2 separate regions of the Homo sapiens genome follow, and region 1 is linked to region 2. A link means that fine-mapping ties the variant in region 2 to the expression of a gene that starts in the linked region. Tissue or cell type: whole blood. Region 2 holds a variant in brackets; the other region holds the start of a gene. All regions are shown on one strand. Distances are between the middles of the regions.

Region 1 (8,090 bases), 160 kb before region 2:
TTTTTAGTAGAGATGGGGTTTCACCATGTTGGCCAGGCTGGTCTCCAACTCCTGACCTCAGATGATCTACTCGCATCGGCCTCCCAAAATGCTGGGATTACAGGCGTGAGATACCACACCTGGCAGCCCATCATGTTGCTTCTTAACAAGAGCCTGCTGAAGCAGGCTGGAGGAGGGCTGAGCTTTACAGAGAAAAACTGAGGCTCTAAGAAGCTGACGGAGTCAGGAATGGGGGTCTGTGTTCCAGACACAGCAGGCTTCTGCTCCTATCCCTGCTCTTGGAGGCCAGCCTAATTGCCACACTGCTGCTTGGTGGGCTACTCAGGGGAAGGAGCATCAGGGTTAGGTCCTGGGAGCACCTAGAAGAAGGGGACTCAGGGATGTGGAGGCAGCTCAGACTCTGGCACCTGATGGACCTGAGTTTGAATCCACCAATGCTGTCACCTAAAGCAAGTCCTTTAGTCTCTGTGACTGCGGACAGATTGGAGCCCAGGGAGGCCCAGCTGCCAGTCCCCTCAGGGCTTCCAGCCATGGGCACACAGGCACCTGCGATAGGAGCTAGGCCACAGACACAGGAAAGAGAGATATCTGGACTGGACTTGGGGGCTTTGGGAGTGGGGAGTGGGTCAGGGAGTAGTGGCCTGGGAAGCTGCTAAGGAACAGGTCAGAGGGAGATGGTCTGGGTGGTCACTGGGAACAGGTCAGAGGGTGGAGGCTGGGTGGTCACTGGAAGCATGTCCGAGGGTGGAGGCTGGGTGGTCACTGGAACAGGTCAGAGGGTGGAGGCTGGGTGGCCGCTGGGAGCAGGTCAGAGGGTGGAGGCTGGGTGGACACTGGGGAGAGAGTTGAGGGTGGTGGCCTTAGGGGTGTGGTTTCTGGGAGCACCACAGTGAGGGGAGAGGTGTGAGCACAGAGGGCAGCACAGTGTGGCGGCATTAAACAAGCCAAGAGAGGCAACAAGCAAGTCAGTGCAAGCGACGTAGCCCAGAGGCAGGAAGTGGGTAGTTTTGTGCAGTCCCGGAGGCCGGGGGAGCTCTTTCCACCTGTGTGGTTTCAGGAAGGACTTCGGTAATGCTGGGGCGAGGGTTGCAGGTGGGCCACTGCAGTTGCTGCGAGACCAGGTGCTTTACCTCGAGAATAAATCTCAATCCACCGCCTTCTCCCTGTCTTCACCAGCAGCCAAGGGCAGGCCAGCCCAGCTCCTCCCAGCCCTTCCTGCTCCACCCCTTCCCCTTCATCCACTCTCCCTTCAGCCCCTGGAGAGATGGCTTAGAAACAGACCAGAGCACACCACTCCCCTGCCTAAAACCCACCTGTGGCTTCTACTGAACTTGGGATAAAACCCACGCTCCTCTGTGTTCTCCCCCAGGGCCCTGCTGAACTCTTTGGTTTCATCCGCCTCCCTGCCCGAGGCTCGGCCTCGCTTGTGTTCCTTAAATGCACCGAGCGGGCCCCATTCTCCTGGCCTTCGCACGTGCTCTTCCTCCTGTGCTCTTCCAGCAGATCAGTCAGGGCTGCGGCCTCCCGCGTCTTGGTTTTCACTTAAACATCTCTTCCTTTAGAGAGGGCAAGATGATTGTCTCCACTCCCACCTTTCCCCTTGTTTATTTACTTCCCAGCACTTTTTATTCACTGAGTCAACAAATATCGATTGAGCACCTAGTATGCTCCAGGCACCATTCCAGGTGCTGGGGATACAGCAGTGAGGGGATACACCTCCCTTACAGGCTTCTCTTAGGCTGGGGAGACAGACACCAAATCATGGAGATATAAAGACATAAATTATGCACCGTGTTTGATGGTGATAAGAGTTGTGGAAAAGCAGAAAGAGAGAAATTAATTGATCGGTGTGTCTCTCTCCTCTGCGGAAGTGTGGGCTGAATGGGGGCTGGTGCTGAGTCTGGCTCGTGCCCCAGCATAGCCCGAAGCCCACACAGTGCCCACACATAGTAGGTGCTCATTGGGCAAATGAATGAATCAGTAGGGCCTGGGAGAACAGGGCCTGGGCGGAAGGAGAAGGTGCCCCAGTGAGAGGGAAGAGCGGGAGCAGGGCCTAGGACCTGAGGAGGTCCAATCTGGCCAGAGCAAATGGCCAGGGGAGGGAGTGGTGGGCTCCGAGGCTGGCACGGTGGTGGGCAGAGCTGGAACCACCCTAGGGAGGGTGCGTTTCAGCCCAGGAGGTTGACACGTGGCAGGCCAAGGTGCCTGGGAGCTTATGTAAGGCCCGTGGCTGTTTTTCTGGAATCAAGAGCAAAGCCCTGAGCTCAGGAGAAAACTCCGCCTCCCTGACCAGCCAGGGGAAGTGGCAGGAGGTGCCAACCCCTGCCCGTTGCCCCCGGGAGCCAGAGAAATGTCCAAATGCATCAGCTCCGGGTGGCTTGGTCGACAGCCCAGCAGCAGCTGGGTGGGCACCAGGGACGTGGACCCCATCTCTCAATCCCACGGCTCAGACTGGCCCTGTAGGGGTTCTAGGATCCCAGGGACCCCAGTGGACAAAGTTTTAGGGACTAGTACCCTTTGGGGTGAGGTGGTGAGGGGCAGGCCCTGGGAGTGGCTGTCCGTCCCATCTTGCCATTGACTGGTTGCGGAGGCTCTCGGCCAGCGAGGGCACCATCAGTTGTCATGAAGCCCGCCTGGGGGTCTGGTGCTGGGATTCTGGCCTCTCAACACCACCTAGTGCTTCACTTGGCTGGGTGCATAGCCTTGACAACCCGCTTTGTTCTCTTGGCCTCAGTTTCTTCACCTGCCAAATGGGCATAATAGTCCTCCTGAGGTTGTTGTGAGCATCAGACAAGGCCAGGGAGTAGAAGTGCTTTGAGTTGGAGTCGGAGCCAGCAAGATGATTTGCATCACCTAGAACAAAATGAAAATGTGGGACCTCTTGATAAGCAATTAAGAATTTCATGTTGGTGACAGAAGAATTCTAAAGCAAGTTCAGGGCCCTTCTGAGCACGGGGCCCTGTGCAGCTGCCTGAGCCACAGACCCAGGAAGCGGGCTCTGACCGGAATTCTTTTTTTTTTTTTTTTTTGGTGACAGAGTCTTGCTCTGTTGCCCAGGCTGGAATGCAGTGGTGTGATCTTGGCTCACTGCAACCTCCACCTCCCGGGTTCAAGTGATTCTCATGCCTCAGCTTCCCGAGTAGCTGAGATTACAGCGTGTGCCACCACACCCAGCTAATTTTTGTATTTTTAGTACAGATGAGGTCTCACTATGTTGGCCAGGTTGGCCTCAAACTCCTGACCTCAGGTGATCCACCCACCTTGGCCTCCCAAAGTGCTGGGATTACAGGTGTGAGTCACGTGCCTGGCCTTTGACTGGAATTCTATTTCTGCTGTTACTCTGCTACATGTCTGTCCTGTCCCTTCTCTGGGCCTCGGTTTCTTCATCTGTAAGGCAAGGAGGTTAGACTCTAAGATTCCTGGGTTCTCAGCCTTGTAAGGCAGTGGCTGGGAGGTCCCTGGGTCAAGGGCTCAGCTGTAGGTCTCAGCTCAGGGGTTACTTCCTCAGGGAAGCCAACTGTGATTCCCTCCTGGCTTGCCAGCGTTCCCCCAGTCTCTGATTCTGCAGCACCCCAACATTGCCTTTGTAACCTGCATTGTCCTGGCAATAATGTCTGTCTTTACAATCACCTCTTTTTTCTTGCAAGTTTTCTTTACCTTTGATGGTGCAATAAATACATAGCTCTAGTCTTGTAAAAAAGTTAAGATCCCTTCCTTCCTTCCTTCCTTCCTTCCTTCCTTCCTTCCTTTCTTCCCTCCCTCCCTCCCTCTCTCCCTCTCTCCCTCCCTTCCGTCTTTCTTTTCTGTCTATAATTACTTAAACATTTTTTCTCTTAAATAATGAAAGATTTCAAATACAGAAAATTGCCAATAGACAAAAAAAAAAGAGTTAATATCACAATTATATTCTAAGAAGGCTTTATTCTCCCCACTATCTTCGTTTGCCAAAACTGAGGCTCAGCCAGGGTGAGCAGACTTGCCCCATGATCACCCAGCTTGGAAGCAGATTCCAAGTTGGGTGCAGCTGGGCCCTCAGCTGTTTCGTAATCCTCATGCAAGAGTGAGGGTGAGGGGCCTGTGGGGCTCAGGTGGGGCTGTCAGAGCTGCATCCGTCCACTTATTGGTGGAGAGGCAGGTTGGGGAGCATGTACCAGGCCTGTCCCCACCACGTGCCACCCTCTCTGTCTTCCCCAGGGCTCCCAGCTCAGTGTGGACATGGCTGAGAGCGCCTCCCCGCCCTCCTCATCTGCAGCAGCCCCAGCCGCTGAGCCAGGAGTCACCACGGAGCAGCCCGGACCCCGGAGCCCCCCATCCTCCCCGCCAGGCCTGGAGGAGCCTCTGGATGGAGCTGATCCTCATGTCCCACACCCAGACCTGGCGCCTATTGCCTTCTTCTGCCTGCGACAGACCACCAGCCCCCGGAACTGGTGCATCAAGATGGTGTGCAACCCATATCCTCCGCAGCCTCGGCTGATCGGGGCCCTGCAGGGGCTGAAGGGTGGGGGGCTGGATTGAGTCCTGCTGCTCACACCTTGCTCCGGCTGGGAGACCTGAGGTCTGCGGTGAGGCCACTGGGCCTTGGTGGTGGTGAGCGAGCTCAGAGGGTGGGTCTGGGGAGACCTCAAATGGATGAGGACCTGGTGTTCTGCTGATGTGAAGGTTCTGGAAGTTGCTGGTGGCTGTGGGGTCAGTCCAGTGGCTGGCTGGCTCAGAAAGTCCTTGAGTGTGGGCCCCAGACCTGTGCTGGGCTGGGAATGCAGATCAGTCAGACTCTGGAGCCACCTGATGGGCCGTGACCATACAGAGGATGGGAGCCGTGATCAGGAACTGTGGGCGTGGGCAGCGGGGCAGCCGATCCCAACACACAGGGCAGGACTCATTCTCCTTACTGTGCCTCCGAGCAGCCTCTTCCCAGGCCTCCTGCCTCCACTTGCTGCCTCCAGTGGGCTCATGTTCCCCCTGCTTAAGACTGTCATGATTTGCTATGGTCCTGGAGGTGCAGAGCAAAGTCCTAATCCAACCCATCAGGGCCTGTGTGTTCCACCCAGCCTCACTTCCCACCACTTGGCTTCCCCCCTGTGCTCTTCTGAGCCTCAGGGTCCTCTCACTGGCTCTTCCCCCTGTCTGAAAAGCTTTTCCCTTCCCCCTGGACCTGGCCAAATCCTTTGCTACATCCTTAAAATCCCAGCTTAAGCATCACCTCCTCAGGGAAGCCCTCTGGGATTCCTCCTCTGCTTCATATCTAACTGTCACATCTAACTGTGGAATTCTGAATCTAACATTTGCCTCCCCTGGGGTACTGTCAGATGACTGGGATGGGGACCCTAGCACCTGGCACAGTGCTTGGCACATCGTGGGTGCTCTGGCAGTGTTTGCTGGGTGTACATGGGCAATGCCAGAGCTGACTCCTCAATAAGGAAGAGCGTTGGTTGGGTAGAGAGGGTAGTGGGAGGCAGGAGGAGGGCATGGCAGGAGCGAAGCCTGGAGAAGGGAGGAGTTGCAGGCAGTGTTGGAGCCCTGAGGGGCAGAGAGGAGTGAGGTGAGGCTGCAGGTGTGGCGGGAGCCCTGCAGGGCCTTGGAGGCTGCATGAGGGATGGGACTGTGCTCCAAGGGCAGGATTTGAAGCAGGGTCTGGAGAGATCTGTGCTCTGGAAGGACTGTGTGGCACTGGCTTGCAGGGTGAAGTGGGGGCTGGGGACCACTGAGGAGGAGGCTTGGGGACCCAAGCCATGGTGGCCTTGTGGTTTGAGGGTCCCACCAAAAAATGCCCATATGTGGCTCGAGGTTCTGGTGCTTGTGGCCACACAGGGCAGGGTGCGGGGAGCTGGTGGGTCAGGTGCAGGCCTGAGTCCTGCCCTGGAATCCAGGGATGCCAGATGCAGGCTGGGATGTTGAGACTGGCTGCAGGACTGCCAGGCTTCCCTTCTGTAGGGGGCTGAGGTGATCGTGGGCCCTGGATCCCCCTAACTTTTGGAAACCAGCGGGTCTCTGCTGGAGTGGGATGCAGAACTGGGTGTTCCTTGCTGGGTGGGGGCTAAGAGCCTCCCTGCTCCTTCTGGGGGACGGCTCACAGCGTCTCAGGCTTGGTGAGAGGGTCTGCTCGGTAATTAGTTCACCCAGCACTCACTGACATCTGCCCTGGGACACTGAGGACAAAGAGGCAGAGCTGGTGTCTGTCCCAGGGAGTGCCCGGGGAAGAGGGAAGCAGGGACCACCCATTTGGCTAGTTTTTTTTTTTAGATGGAGTCTCGCTCTGTCACCCAGGCTGGAGTGCAGTGGCGCGATCTCGGCTCACTGCAACCTCCGCCTCCCAGGTTCAAGCAATTCTCCTGCCTCAGCCTCCCGAGTAGCTGGGACTACAGGCACCCACCGCCATGCCCTACTAATTTTTGTATTTTTAGTAGAGATGGGGTTTCACCATGTTGGTCAGGCTGGTCTCGAACTCCTGACTCGTGAACCGCCTGCCTCGGCCTCCCAAAGTGCTGGGATTACAGGTGTGAGCCACTGTGCCCAGCCTACGTGGCTAGTTTTAATACAAAGCACTGGGGAAACCTCAGGGGCTTGTGGCATGTGAACAGAGGAGTGCCAGGCCTGAGAAGGGGGCGGCCGCAGGAATTTTGGGCCTTTAGGAAGAGAAAGGCTGGTAGGAGGACCAGGGGGACAATTTCACAATGTCTCAGGGGCCTTTCCTGGGTGAGATGACAAGAGTTGATTCTGGCTCTGTCACTTGGGTGCTGTGTGACCATGAGTAAGTCACTTTGCTTCTTTGAACCTTAGGGGGTCTGGATGGGCAATACTGCTCTGGGCTGGAGGCAGGGGCATGGCTCAGAGGACTTGGCCTGGGAGTCTGACCCAGCTGCGTCTCTGATGGGCTCTGGCTGGGCTGGCTGGGGTGCTGCCCACGTGTCACGGAGAGGCCCCTAGATGGGGGTGGTCAAGTCCTGTCTGCCATGTGTGTGACCCTGGGCAGTCTCCTCTCTCTGAGCCTCAGCACCTCCACCTAAAAAGGAGACGGCAGACGAATCACCCCTTCCAGCCCTGGGAGCCCAGGGTGTTAGCCACACACGCCATGGGGGCTGCCTTGATCTCAGGCACCCTGACGCCTGACCACTGAGTGAGCCAGCCCCTGGGAACCCACCCAGTTTTCCATATTTCTGGCCTGTTGGGCAAACAGAGTCCTTGGGGCCACTGTCTCCTTGGTTTTCACCACCCCTCTCACCTCCATCCTCAGGTCATGTGGGTTGTGGCCTGGGGTTGGAGACAACAGTGGGGCTGGCCCAGGAGGGAGAGGAGTACTGGTTTCGGGAGGAGCTGGGCCTGCCTCTTGTCTGTCTTGGAGAGAGCCCTGGGTCCAAGGGGTGGGGCAGAAAGCAGCCCCCCTCCATCAGGAGGGACTTTTCAGTCCCGGGAGCTGCGCAGAGCGAGGGTTCCCCCGGCATCCCCATGGCCAGGGCTGCTGAGGCTGGACTGGGATAGAGGTGGTTCAGGTCTCGGCCTTAACTGGTGGGATACGGACTCTCTTCAGGCCAGAGATGTGGCGACTCAAAAGCACAGCAACTTTAAAGGTGTCAGCTCTGGGACACTCAGACTGAAAACTTCTGCGACAGTCTAAGGGTTCAAAGTTAAGATTTAAGGCTCAGCGACACTGAAATTCTAAGCTTCTGTCATTCAAAGGCTGCAAAATTCTGTGTTTCAAAGAGTGTGTGAGCCTAAGACTTGGTGGCTGTGATGCTGTGTGCCTACGAGTTGGAGGATTCTGGACCCGGTGGCTGCAGCCGCTGCTGGCCTGAGAGTTCATAGCTGAATTGGGTCAGGTGGGAGAGGGGCCAAGGAGGGTTCCACAAACAGAGACCCAGGAGACGTGGCTGTCCATAGGGCTGTCCCCTGGAGCAGAGACTCAGTCGTGGGGAGCTCAGGGTGGGCTTTAGGGGCTTGGGATGGGGTGCGTGTGTGGGTGGGGCAGGGGCTGAAGCCTCTAGGATTCTTTCCTGGCTGGAAACTTCACTCCCTCTTGTGCTCTGTGGGAGGGGGCCTGGGGCAGTGCTTAAGCTTGTACTCCTCAATGGGACACCATTGGCATTTGGGGGTTG
Region 2 (8,101 bases):
TCTTTGGGATGCTCCAGGCACTGCGCTAGGTTCTGGTGACCTTGTCCTTAAAGGATTTATGTGCTAGAAAGGACAGCAAGAGACTAGAAAAGGGATGAAGTTCCCTGCCTGCTTCTCTGACGTCCTTCTGTGTGGCTCTGCCATGTGCTCGGGACTCCCCTGCCTAAGTGACTTTCTTAAACTCCTCCTGGTCTCCGACGTCCTTCTTTGTGGCTCTGCCATGTGCTCGGGACACCCCTGCCTGAGTGGCCTTCCTAAACTCGTCCTGGCCTCAGGGCCTTTGCACGCAGGATCCCCTTTCTGCCCAGGATGTTGTTACCTTTTATCTTTTCAAGACTGGCTCCTCATCATGCAGATCTCAGCTCAAAGTTACCTATCTGGGGGAGTCTTTCTTGATTAGTCTTTATTTTTTTGAGACAGGGTCTCACTCTGTTGCCCAGGCTGCAGTGCAGTGGCATGATCACGATTCACTGCAGCCTTGACCTCCCGTCCTCAGGTGATCCTCCTGCCTCAGCCTCCTGAGTATCTGGGACTATAGGCATGTACCACCAGGCCTGGATAATTTTTGTATTTTTTTTTTGTAAAGATAGGGTTTCTCCATGTTGCCCAGGCTGGGCTCAAACCCCTGAGCTCAAGCAATCCGTCTGCCTTGGCTCCCAAAGTGCTGGGATTACAGGCATGAGCCACTGTGCCTGGCTAGATTAGTTTTACTCCCTACCCTGTTTCTTATTAATTCTGTTTCATTTTCTTGACAGCTCTTACCACTCTCTGAAGTTCTTAGCTGTCTGTTGTCTGTTTCCCACTAACTGGAACGTGAGGTCCATGAGAATAGAGATCTTGCTTGTCTTGTTCTCTATTAGATCCTAAAAGCTAGCCTAGAATAGCCTAGAATAGTTCCTGGCACAGAGCAGGTGTGCAGTAAATATTTGTTGATGAATAAAGTTCCACAAATGTCTATTGAGCACCCACTCTATGCCAGCCCCTGTGCTGGGCACTAGGAAATTGTAAGTCAATTTACAATGTACTGTGCTGCCGGCCATATTTCATTTAATCTTTGTAAGTGCCTCATTAAGAGGGAACTGATATTCTTTCCATTTTGTGAACTAGAAAATGGAGACCAGCAGTATCAATAACCTGTGACTGTAGTTTATATTGCCAATTATTTTCTGCCCCAGTGACAGCAGGCTCGGCCACATGGCTCACTTTGGCCAAGAAAATAGGAGAGAAGCAACACTTGCAAGAAGTTGTAAAAGTTGTCGTGCGGTCCCGCCGGTGTTCTTTCTCCTCTGCCATGAGAACGTGGCCACTCCTTCAGCCCGGATCCCGGAAAGATGGAGATGTGTGAGTCAGAGCCTCATCCGACAGCAGCTGATGTTTACCCCGAGTGAGAAACAAACCGTGAGTGCTCTAAGCCGCTGGGGACCGGGCTTGCTCCCACACCATAACTTCGCAAAAGCTGATGGAACGCATTGGCTTAAGGATTTTAAGAAGGGCATGCTTTCTGGGGGGCACATCTGTGGTTAGCTAGAGATGCCTTAAAGAGGTGGGAAGATGCCAGGCAGCAGTTCATAGTCCCTAAAACACTCACGTATTGTCCTGCTGAACTGGTGCCCCCCAGGTTTTCAGTCTGCCCGGCCCCCGCCGCCACCCCCCGCCACCACCCCCCGCCGCCCCAGTCTCCTCTTCCCATGGCTTTTGGCTTTTCTCGCTGGTCTCCCGTGCTCTTCCTGACTTTATCCTGTGCTCACCACTAGAGCAGGCATGTGGGAAAATCACTTGACCTTCAAACCTCAGTTTCCCCATCTGTAAGAGGGAGGCTGACAATACCTGTCTGGATTATATTTAGGATTAAGTGAGTTAACATGGGGAAGTGCTTAGCCCTCCACGGTGTGCACTGAATGGATGACTAAATAAACAAATGAATAGATCCTGGAGAGTCTGGAGCTAGAAGCTTCCCTGGCCCATGAAGCGGTCTTTGGGTCTGGGCTATTCCAATCCACACTCTTTGGGCTTGAGCCCCTCCAGAAAGGCTGATAAAGTGAGCGTTTCTGAACCTACAAAAGTGAGGTGGCGGTGACCCCAGCAAAGGGCAGCCCTCCCAACAAGCATCATTTTGAAGCAGGTGACAGCCTCATCTGCCCTGAGGTGGGGGTTGGGAGGTGAGAGTCTGTTAGAGCCCCCGACCAGAGGGACGCCGCCCTGGCACAGCTGTTCTCTTCTGAGTGCTACTCCTTGGGAGGCAGGCTCCTGGAGCAGGGCAATTGATTTCTGTATGGCAGACACAAAGGCCCACGCAAGGTGGGACCTGGAGAGATGCTGCGACAGTCAGTCAGTTCCAGGCTGGGGTTTGGCCTATATCCTTTTCAAAGAAGGCAGCACATCAGCGACTTGGTACCCTTGGTGTATGCCAAAAAGCCAGGCACCGAAAGATGCTCCTCCTTGTCAATTAACGGAACCGCGAATTCAGCTGGAGGAGCATACACGTGCTGCGGAATCATCGAACAGTGTCAGGTCAACCTAAAATCCCAGGACTATGCAAGACGTGGGAATCATGGAGATGAGAGAAGGAGACTAATAATTTTTGAGCATCTTCTATGTCCAGGGCATCTTGTAAGCATGATTTCCTTTAATTCTCACAATAACCAGGCAAGGTGGGTATGATGACTTTCCGAGGCAGTCGAAGGAACAGAGGCCTGGAAAGGCTGAGTACGGTCTAGGGCCGCAGAGCCAGGAAGGGTCAGGGCCTGGGCTCAAACCAGGACGATCTGATCCCAGGAACTGTGCCTTCCAGAAGCAGGTGCCTCCCACACCTGTGTGTAGTTTCCTCATGGTGACAAGGCCACACAGAAGGGCTGGCCTTGGGTTACACCGAGTTCTGCTGGGATCAGAACTGGGCCAAGCCCAGTGAGTTCCCGGGGGAGGTGCCTGCTTTTGTTGAAGTGTGTGTTCACATCTGAGTAGAGGAGAGGCTGCCTGTGGGAAAAGGGTTACAGGTCAAACTGTGTTCCTCAGAAAAGATATGCTGGAGTCCCAACCCCAGGTGCCTCTGCATGTGACCTTATTTGGAAACAGGGTCTTTATAAGGGTAATAAAATGAAGATGTGGCCATGGGGTGAGCCCTAAGTCAATCTCCTCGTGCTGTTATCAAAGGGAAATTTGGAGGCAGAGACTGCCACGTGCTTAGGGAATGATGTGGAGAGGCACCGGGAGAAGGCTGCGGCCAGGCAGAGGACAGGCCAAGGCACGCCACGGACTGCCGCCACCAGGAGAGTGGCAACAGAAAGGGGGCCTGTGCTGCATTCTCCCTGACGCCCTCAGAGGGAACTGAGCCTTCTGATGCCTGTATCCCAGGCTCCCAGAACTGGGAGACCATCAGCTTCTGGTATTTTAAGTCACCCAGTCTGTGGCTCCCTGTTAGGGCAGCCCCAGGGAACTAGTACAGGGGACATCGTGGTGCACTTGGTTCCCCTCTGCTGTTGGAACCCCTCATCTTGGTTCCCAGTGACGACAGCCCTCTTCCTCTGCAAAATCAGGGCCCTGTAGCAAACAGAACAGCTCAGCTTCTGGCCGAGGGCTTTGGTGATGTTTCTGGTAACACCAGTATTCGCACCGGAAGTCGCCCCCCGTCCCCCGCCTCTGCCCCCAAAGAGCTGTGGTAAAGATCGTGTTCTTATCGTATCACATTGTAAGTGCCGCTGTGTTGCCCAGGGTATAGATGAACACTCCGCAAGGCCTGGAGACCTGGGCATTCCTCCCGCAGAGAAATCACGGGAAAGACACGTGCTCACTCCCAACCCTGTCCCACTCCCAGGGTTATTTACAAACTCTTTAACATTTGCAATTTTAAGGAATTAATTGATTGTCTATTAATATTGAAGCATCTGTGTTTATTTTTCCATGTGGTAATGATCACATGCTAAGAACGTGGCAAACACCGCTATGCTCTAATGGTAAACAGCGGAACAGCATCACCACAGACCGCAGCAGATTGGTCGCTGAAATTCACCCTCTTACCGACTGTCATTTAGGCATCTAGACGAAATCAGTGATAACCACCCTCCTGCTTCAGCTCATCTGCAGACTCTGAGGGGTCCTGGTTTTGTGTAACATCATTTCCAATAACTTTGACCTTCTTAGAGGAAGAAGCCAAGATTAATGAGCCACATGAAAACACTAATTTCTATATATTAGAGATGATGAAATATGTCGATGGCTTAAACAAAGCTAATCTATGAGATTAAGAATATAGAGGCTGGGCGCGGTGGCTCACGCCTGTAATCTTAGCACTTTGGGAGGCTGAGGCGGGCAGACCACAAGGTCAGGAGATCGAGACCATACTGGCTAACATGGTGAAACCCCGTCTCTACCAAAAAATACAAAAAAATTAGCCAGGCGTGGTGGCAGGCACCTGTAGTCCCAGCTACTCGGGAGGCTGAGGCAGGAGAATGGCCTGAACCCAGAAGGCGGAGCTTGCAGTGAGCCGAGATCACGCCACTGCACTCCATGCTGGGTAACAGAGCGAGACTCCGTCTCAAAAAAAAAAAAAATA[T/A]ATATGTGTATATATATATATATATATATATATATATATATATATATATGTGACAATTTTAAGGGCAGGGACTCCATGTTGAGTTGTTGGCAGCTGACTGAATCCTGATGCTTCCCTGTGCTAGGGGAGGGGGCTGGGGGCCGTATAACCAGCGGGAGAGGATGCCTCCTGTTATGGACTGAATGTGTCCCTCCCAAATTCAGATGTCAAAACTCTAACCTATAATGTGATGACATTAGGAGGTGGGGCCTTTGGGGGGTAATTAGGTCACGAGGGTGGGGCCCTCATGTGGGATTAGTGCCTTTATAAAGGAGACCCCAGAAAGCTCTCTCACCCTCTTTCCTGCCTCATGACGCTATAATGAGAAGTTTTCTAGAACTGTGAGGGCTACGTTTCTCTTGTCTGCAAGTCACCCAGCCAATGGCCTTTTGTTACAGCAGCGCAAATGACTAAGACATGGCTCGCATCAGAAATCTTGAGGGAGGCACCAGCCCACTGCTCAGAGCTGTGTGACCTCAAGCTAGTGACCCAGCCTCTCTGAGTCCTCCATTCCTCCTCTGCCTAGCTCTCCAGGGGGCAATGAGGCCAAACAGAGATGTGGTAAGTGCTTTGCCGACTGTAGAGTGCTCCACAAGTGTCAGGAAGCACAAGGCCCAGGGGACTTGGCCAGACTGAGCAGTGGACACCTTCTGAGGCAAACAACCAGTGTATCCCGCTAACTTGTGGGTTCACTTTTTCCTCCCAGAGCTTCCTACAGTAAAACAAAGCAGAGAGCCACAGGCCCCTGGATGACACTTGGCAGCCACCCCCACCCCCGCCAAGCAGCAGGTAAGAGCTGTGGGACCCCTTGTTCCTAAGCCACACACTATTCCTGTCCTTGACGGGGACCATGGCTAGTTAAGGCGATAATTGCAGCCATCCTTATCAATACAGCAATGACAATTTAGAGGCAGAGGTGGCAGAAACACACTCAGTAGTGGTCCCCACAGACAAGTGAGTACACCGGCACCCATCTGTTGAGCTGCAGACAAATTCCCCTGGGAAGGACAAGACGTGGTCAGGAGCAGAGCTCAGTGGAAAGGCCACCCCCTCTGCTGGGCAGCCTTTGTGGAGAGGGTTCGGAAAGCCCATCCCCCTGCAGGTCTCACAGCTTCTGGTGGCTCCTATTTACTTTGGGGCACACACGAGGATCTGATGGACAGGGCTGGAGGTGCAGCTCCTGTGCCTCTCTGTAAGGGTCCCTCCCTCGTGTACATATGAACACACGAGAGTTGTGGCTAAATGGATCCTTGACAGCCCCAGGGGGGACAATGAAGCAGTGAGCCTGCTGGGCCTGCCCCCTGGAGACCATGCCTCCCTGCCTGCCAGGAAGACCAACCTCCTGCCCCTGCCTGCTTCTGTCATCCTCCAATCAGCTTCTCAGTGAGGTCCCATCGGTCCCTTCTCCAAAGGCTTTCCGGCTGCCAGCCGATGCTGTCTGCAGTGGGTCTGCTACTGACTTACCATTCTGACCTTGTGAAATGGAGAGAAGCTCTCGGCGCTGCTGGTCCCCAGGAGTTAGATCTGTTCTCCTGTGAGATCGGCTAAACCTGGCCTTCTTACTGGCGCGGGGTGACGGGCTTGTTTTCCTCTTTTGCTGGTTCTCTTTATCCTTGGAATTGGTGCTTTTCACATTGTGTTTACCCTCACATTTGGCTTAATCCAGTGAGGTGCTGTTTCTCATTTTCCCCCCCGACTTTTGGCTTTGGGGAGGTGGCGAGGGCGTGCACAGGTGGAACAGAACAGGTTTTATGTGAACAGAAGCTGCTCCTTTGGGGTTGGTGGCCCTCCCGGCCACTCCCCTACACAATGCGTGTGGAGGGAAAGCAGACGCCCATCGGCAGCACAGGGATGATGAAACTAACCGCTAAAGAGACACTACTAAGTGCCCCCACTTTATTTTTCAAAAGTATGGACATATTATTGCTTTATGTCCCTGAATTCATATTTTTTTCTTTAGTCTCTGTTGGCTATTTCTGGGTTGCTCTGTGTGATTTTCAGGAGCATATTACATACTCCAGAGACAGAGACCCCATTGTAGTAAACGAAAATTCTCCCCCAGGGTGAAACAGTGACAACAGTCCCCAATTAAAATCAAAGTGTGTGGGGGCTCCATGACATTCTCAAGGTTTGATTAGGTGAGAAAGAGAAATTGGGACAGGCTCTTCATCTCCAAACCAGCTCTAAAAATGTTCTACTCCTGTCCCAGCCTCTGCTAATTTGGGTCTTGAAATGAAAGGGGCAGGGAAGGGATTGGGAAGTGTGGGTGGAGGCAGACAACTCTTCAGAAATGGGAGGCACCAAAAGAAGATCCAGAGGGTCTGGGGTGCGGCTGCAGCCCAGCAGCTCCTGGCAGTGGGACTGGGGCAGCCTGAGAGCAGGATGAGACTGAGGGGCAGGGGTGGAAAGGCAGAAGCAAGGGATGGCCCGGCTGGACCTGTTCCCCTTCTTCCCATCTGCCTGGCCCAGCCAATGGCACCAACTGTGAGGCAGTGTGTAGCTCTAAGCAAGACCATGGTTCAAGGTCTGGCTTTGACCCTGACTACTGCCTGTGTGGCCCTGGACAAGTTCCTTAGCTCATTTTAGTCTCTGTTTTCTCATATACAATGTGACGATCTAACCTTCCCGGTAGGGTTGTTAAGAGGATTAAAACATGCTCGTGACATTGTTAGTGTTTGTTAAGTGTCAACTACTATTATTATTATTAAACCGGAATTCTGGAGCTCATCCCTATTTAGAGATAGAGTCTCACTATGTTGTCCAGGGTGGCCTTGAACTCCTGGGCTCAAGCAATCCTCCTGCTTCAGTCTCATGAGTAGCTAAAACTACAGGCCCCACTGCACCTGGCTTCAACCCCATTTTTAACATTTATTTTATTTTTAAGGTTTTCTTTTTTTTTTCTTTTACCTTAAGTTCTGAGATACATGTGCAGAATGTGCAGGCTTGTTACGTAGGTATACATGTGCCATGATGCTTTGCTGCACCTATCAACCTGTATTTTAGGTTTTAAGCCCCGCATGCATTAGGTGTTTGTTCTAATGCTCTCCCTCCCCTTGTCCCCTCCCCACCCCCCAACAGGCCCCAGTGTGTGATGTTCCCCTCCCTGTGTCCATGTGTTCTCATTGTTCAACTCCCACTTATGAGTGAGAGCATGTGGTGTTTGGTTTTCTGTTCCTGTGTTAGTTTGCTGAGAATGATGGCTTCCAGCTTCATCCATGTCCTTGCAAAGGACATGATCTCATTCTTTTTTATGGCTGCATAATATTCCATGGTGTACATGTGCCACAGTTTCTTTATCCAGTGTATAATTGACAGGCATTTGGGTTGGTTCCAAGTCTTTGCTACTGTAAATAGTGCTGCAATAAACATACGTGTGCATGTGTCTTTATAGTAGAATAATTTATAATCCTTTGGGTATATACCCAGTAATGGGATTGCTGGGTCAAATGGTATTTCTGGTTCTAGATCCTTGAGGAATCGCCACACTGTCTTCCCCAATGGTTGAAGTAATTT

What was found. PIP is the estimated chance that this variant, and not a neighbour inherited with it, causes the effect.
Region 1: it holds the start of CACNA1I, and the variant in region 2 is fine-mapped to the expression of CACNA1I in whole blood (INTERVAL, PIP above 0.99).

What each region holds. Positions count from the first base shown.
Region 1 is chr22:39,566,538-39,574,627 of GRCh38, forward strand. CACNA1I (calcium voltage-gated channel subunit alpha1 I) reads left to right here and starts at 4,216. Exons shown (of 37, transcript NM_021096.4): 1 at 4,216-4,451. The coding sequence starts at 4,216.
Region 2 is chr22:39,726,404-39,734,504 of GRCh38, forward strand. No RefSeq gene overlaps it. Among named protein-coding and RNA genes, the nearest start is that of CACNA1I, 160 kb to the left of the region's middle. The variant T/A (reference allele first, on the strand shown) is at 4,550.